Linked DNA regions of Homo sapiens: region 2 is linked to region 1. The links come from fine-mapping of genetic effects on gene expression. A gene starts in region 1. The other region holds a variant in brackets. All regions are shown on one strand. Distances are from middle to middle. Region 1 holds the start of R3HCC1L (R3H domain and coiled-coil containing 1 like). Region 2 has its middle 33 kb from the start of R3HCC1L.

Evidence for each region. PIP is the estimated chance that this variant, and not a neighbour inherited with it, causes the effect.
Region 2: its variant is the best candidate, but not a certain one, in a credible set for the expression of R3HCC1L in sun-exposed skin (GTEx, PIP 0.58).

Annotation. Positions count from the first base shown.
Region 1 is chr10:98,133,413-98,136,328 of GRCh38, forward strand. It overlaps R3HCC1L (R3H domain and coiled-coil containing 1 like), which reads left to right and starts at 1,245. Exons shown (of 10, transcript NM_001351015.2): 1 at 1,245-1,294. RefSeq lists enhancers at 1,672-2,461, 1,804-1,943.
Region 2 is chr10:98,100,084-98,102,999 of GRCh38, forward strand. No RefSeq gene overlaps it. Among named protein-coding and RNA genes, the nearest start is that of R3HCC1L, 33 kb to the right of the region's middle. The variant G/A (reference allele first, on the strand shown) is at 1,580.

The DNA.
Region 1 (2,916 bases):
AGGGACAGAAATTGTGCACTCGGGGAGCTTGGATTTTAGGACAGTAGCTTGCCGATGCTCCCAGCTGAATAAAGCCCTTCGTTCTACAACTTGGTGTCTGAGAGGTTTTGTCTGCGGCTCGTCCTGCTACAATAGAATCTCCAAGATTTGGTGACCATTTGAATATTGGAGGAAGAGGAAGTGAGAAAGGAGGAATCAGGTTAAAGAGTGAATATTAATGAGTAGGGAGGAGGGGTAGTAGTTTACTTTTCTTTTTTTGGGGGACGGAGTCTCCCTGTGTTGCCCAGGCTGGAGTGCAGTGGTGCAATTTTGGCTTACTGCAACCTCCGCCTCCCGGGTTCAAGCGATTCTCCTTCAAGCAATTCTCCTGCCTCGGCCTCCTGGGTAGCTGGGATTACAGGTGCCCACCACCACGCACAGCTAATTTCTGTACTTTTAGTAGAGACAGGGTTTCACCATGTTGGTCAGGCTGGTCTCGAACTCCTGACCGCAGGTGATCCACCTGCCTTGGCCTCCCAAAGTGCTGGGATTACAGGCATGAGCCACTGTTCCTGGCCCCAGTAGTTCACTTTTCAAGGACACTGGAGATGCCTGTGGGCATGGATGAGGAGAGGTCTTGTCTAGGAAGTTGGGAATACAAACAATGAGCTCAGGTGAGAAGGGACTGGAGTGTCCCCTCTCCCACCCCAATTTTAAGAACTCTGGAAAACACCAATATTTTAGAGGTAAGTTAGAGGAAACAAAGTAGAATGAATTCAGAGAAGGAAAACCTGGATAGTGTCATAGAAAATAAGTGATAATGCCCAATAGCGTCAAATGACTAAAGCTTGAGTTAGATGAGTCCGGAAATACCTCCAATGAGTTTGGCAACAAGGACACTTATGACAACAAGGCATTTTCCATGGGGGCGGAAGCTGCGATGAGGAGTGAACACAGATGAGCAAGTAGAGACAGTGTAGATTATCTTTTTCAAAAAACTTGGCTGTGAACGGAGGAAGTGAGATGGTATAATTGAGTGGAATGTAAGGAGATTTGCGCACGTATATAGCCGAGAGGAATGAGGAAGGGTTGAAGGGACAGGAGCAGAAATGCTCTCCGGCACTCGCCATTTTGCCAGCTTCTCCCCTACGTGACCTGAACTCAGTGGGCGCGGCCGGGCCTCGCGGAAACTACAACCCCCAGAAGGCCCCACGGCGTTGGGGGCGGAGCCGAGGCCTGACGCGCGCCCCAGCGGCGCGAGCGGAAGAGATAGAGCTTCGCGGAGACGGCGGAAGCGGAGAGCAACAGCGCGCCGGTAACAACCAGCCCCGTATCCCCTCCCTCTGTACCTCAAGCTAGGATTTTTAATCCCCACTTCTCCCTTCACAGCCCGGGACAAGACTTCCATTCCGTCGTTTGTTGCTGGTATTTTTTTTCCTCATGTGACGCGAGGGGCCGCCCCCTGCCTGGGGCGGAGGTTACTGGGAAGCTCCCGCCTTCTGACCCCTGCGGGCCCGCGGTTGAGAGGGACCCTCCCGGGGCTCTTTTGCACTCACTGGGGCTCGTGCTCGCTTTGGGCGCTCGCCCCAAATGATCCTGGCGGAAAGGACGTGCTTTTTCTGGGTTTCAACAGGTATTGAGCGGGGTCCCTGGTTACCCCCTCGGGGCTGCGGGGCCGTGGGCCCCCAGGGCTGCCGGCGGTTTCCGGGCTTCGCTTCGAGCCTCGCCTTTGAGCCTCCTCCGCTGCCCGGGAGCCCCGGGCTACGGGCTGGGAGTGAGCAATCTATAAAGGAGCATGTACTTCCTGCTTTTTCTTGGCAGGCCTGCGAAAAACCCCAAGTCCGATCTTTAAAGTTTGTGAGTGCAGCCCCCTCTCAGTTGTGTACGGGAAGGAGCACAGGATTTGGAGTCTGATATCCTGGGGGAAGTCTCAGTCCGCCACTTGGCTGGACCTGTGATCTTTTGTACAGTAGTCTGTTTAGCGCAGCCTCGGTTTCGTTGTCTGAAAAGTGGGGTTAATGTTCTTTGCCCTGCGGCCTTCCAGGGTTGTGGGCTTCAGCAGAAGTGATATTCCTGCGAAAGCTTTGAACTCTAAAGTATGTTTCGGGTATAACCTTGCCATCCCCCAGTCTCCAGTCTAGGTCAGTTGAGTTTTAAAACCAGGTTCATGTCTATACGAAGATCAAATTAGTTAATAAATAGGGGGAAAGTGTCTTTGGAAACGAATCTGAACCATACAGATGTTTTTATGCCAGGTTCCTAGTGAAGAGGTGACCTTAGGGCGTTACCACCTGTGGAGTCAATTTAAAACTTCATCTGGATTTTAAGGCCCACCAGAATTTAGACTCTTCTTCCTCAGCACACACAACTATCTCTTGCTGTTATAACCTTCCTTCAGTATCACACAGGTACAAGCATAAAGCAGTAAACGTTCCTCAGATATGGTTGTACTACAACTAATACCTGTCCCCAGCAGGTCTTGTGTCTTGTGTCACAGTTGAAATTCAGAATATAAATAGCCAAATATCCCATCTGTTTAATTTTTTTTGACATTAAGCTTTGAGACTAAGCAAGTTGCTTATTGTCTTATTTTTCCCCTTACAGAGAATGCTAATTCTGCAATCAGTTTTTTTTTTTTTTTTGGGTAGAATCAGGATTTCACTATGTCGCCCAGATTGGTCTAACTCCTGGGCTCAAATGATCCTCCCGCCTCGACCTCCCAAAGTGTTGGTATTACAGGCGTTTGACACTGTGCCCACTGTGCCCGACCTCTGCGATTAATTTTTAAAGGGGTAAGAAAGTGTAGTTAGGTATTTTTAGTCTGTGTTTATTCTGAATTTATTGATTGAAGAATACTTGAAAATGGTCCAAAAAACAAGAGAGGATGACAGTAAGTTGCATTAGCTTAGTGTACAAATTCGAGCAAATTTGAGTTCA
Region 2 (2,916 bases), 33 kb before region 1:
TCTTTCTCTGGAAAGAGAGATTGCCCAAGAGTCCTGCACATCAGCATTACTAGAAATGCATGCAGACCAGCTTCAGCTGCTTGCCAACTCTTTAAAAAATGAGTAAACAATTTTCTAAAGGGGAAAAAATCTCTTCACCTCCTCACACCAACTATTTGCATAATTCAGTGACCTTTTATAAACCGTGCCATTGTATAAGCATCATTTGCAAGGGTAGAAATCAACTATTCATCCCATTTCATACTCTACCTCATTCACCTAACATTTTTCTGTATAAACTTTCTCATGTATTGACAGAGTACTAGTATTTATCATTTGTAATGGTTATATAATATTCTATCATATTAATGTTTCATAGTTTGCTTAATAATTCCCCATTTGTGGAGCTTTTGGGTGTTTTCCAGGATTTTCTTATTATGAACAGGGCAGAAATAAACATCTTTTCACAAATAGCTTATATTTCCTTTTCAGTTATTTCCCTGGTATATATTCCCAGAAGAGGGATTATTAGGTCAAAGGCTAGAGACGCTTTTATGGCTTTTGTTGTGAGGTGCCAGACTGCTCTCCAAAAGACTGTACTAATTTGCAATTCTCTCGTCTTTTTATTCGTGCTTTGTAGCCTCCTAATGAATTCCCCCAGGGGTTGTTCCAAATCTTCTGGGCCTGCCTGGGGCATCAAGCCACTCTCAACCTTCAGAGGTGATTTTACTGGGAAAGTTACACACATGTCCCTGAGTTTCCTCAACTTCCTTCCACATCAATGTTTCTATTTTTACCTGGGCTTCCCTCCTAGGCTGATCTCTGAAGAAGAGGTGTCTGATTTCCTCTCCAAACACACCTCCCTGCCTGCATATTTGACCACGGTCCCTCTTCCTGTCTCTTCAGCACCATGCTGCATCAGTTATTCCACCCTTTTTACATCATCTGTCTCTCCCTCTTCTTCTGCTCTTTCCCCTCAGCCTGCAAATATCCTCATCTCCCTTTTCCTAAAAGCAATAGGCAATTTCTCCCTCTCCCCATGAAATATCTTTTTCTGTCACCATCCATCTTTCTGAAGGAAGAGTCTACACTTCACCATCTCATCTTCTAGTTCCTTCTCAACCTTTTGCCCTCTTTTACTGATGACCAACACTCAACTAAAGCTGCCATGTCAAGGCCACCAATAATTTTCTTAAAAATCCAAGCAAATGACCCTTTATCGGTCATCATTCCTACCACCCTGTTGGCTATCTTGTCCTCATTGAAACATTTTCCTATCTGAGGTTCCGTGGCCGTAAAATTTCTTTAGAGTCCCTTCTATCCTACCAAAATTGTACCTCTATAAGAATTTGTTCTCAAACCTTTTAGTGAACTTTAAATGATATCTACCTCCCACTGTGTAGCAGCCAGGAGAATTGGGAGGGACTGATCCTACCCCCAGCTCTAGTGGAAGCTATGACTCATCTAAGCCCATTAGTATAAACCCATTCCTCCTACCACAATGATGTCTCAGGGAAAACCAGACCAGAGCAATTAACATGTGACATTTACATATGACCTCTGGTGATCCAATTAGCGCCAAGCTCAGGATTTTTGTTTG[G/A]TAGTTGAGGGAAAATAGTTATTTCTTTCCTCTTGGATATAAACGACAAAGCATGTAAACCTAATTGCTGTTGGCTACCATTGTACAAACTTGAGGGAATCCAGTATGAAAATGAAACAACACACAGAATAAAGCAGAGAGAACTGATGCACAACGGATCCAAATCCCTGACTGAACTATGCCTGAAGCCCACTCTATTATCGGATTTTTCAGTTACATGAGCCAATAAGTTCCTTGCATTACTTAAACCATGATGTGTAGGGATTTCCATTATTTGCAATCCAAACATATAACCGTTATCGCTTCCTTCACGGTTCTCCCTTTATATGATATGTTATATCTCATTGCTCTTACCTATTCCCATAGCTTCCATGTTTATATCTATGTAGACGATTCCTCTACACCTCTACCACCTGTCTCCTTACCTTCAACTCCAGCACTACTAGCCTTTCACTGAGTAGCTATACTTGGTTTATGAAGCTTTAATCTTAGCATATGTAATACCAACATTTTTACCATCATCACCCAAGCCAAATCAACCTCACTTCCCCACTTTCCTATGTTGGATTATTCAGTTGCCCAAGTTTGAAACTTCAGAGTTATCCATATCCTTTTTTCCTTTAGGCCCCTCAACCAGTCAGCTACCATGACCTCACACTTTTGCCTCTGGCTGCATCCTGACCAACATAACCTCGGTGTCAAATTGACAGTCTTCTCAGTTGGTCTCCCTGCCTCCTAGCTCTCCCAGTTTCTGATCACTCTACACAACACCCATCAGAAACATCTTCCTGAAACATCAAACCAATCAAACATTTTTAATGATTTCTCAATGTGTTTTAGATTTAGCCAACACTTTCCATTCTAAACCCAAGAATGGATTTAGACCACTACAAGGTCTTTTCACTATCTTTCTGGTTTTATAATCCCATTACTCTCTCATTGGTGCCCAAGCTACAGGCAAATTGAACTACATCCCAGTTCTTCCACACCTTGCTGCCAATGAGATGAATCTGCCTGGACCAACTTCCCTTCACATTTCATCTGTTGAAATCCTACTCTTCCTTTAAGAACCATCTCAAAACCACCTCCATAAAAGATACTTTGATTTACCTGAATAGATATTTCTCTTCTTGAACCCTACACTGTGTCACTCTTGTGTTACTCATCACAATAGGAAAGCTAACTTTTATTTTTGTATCCACTAAGCACAGAACATAGGGCCTTGAAAGTGGTAGGTGCTCAATTAATACTCCTTCAATTAGTCTGATTCGAGGGCAAACTTATGAAGAAGAGATGCCACAAGAAGGTAGCCGAGAAGGAATCTCACTCTTTTATTA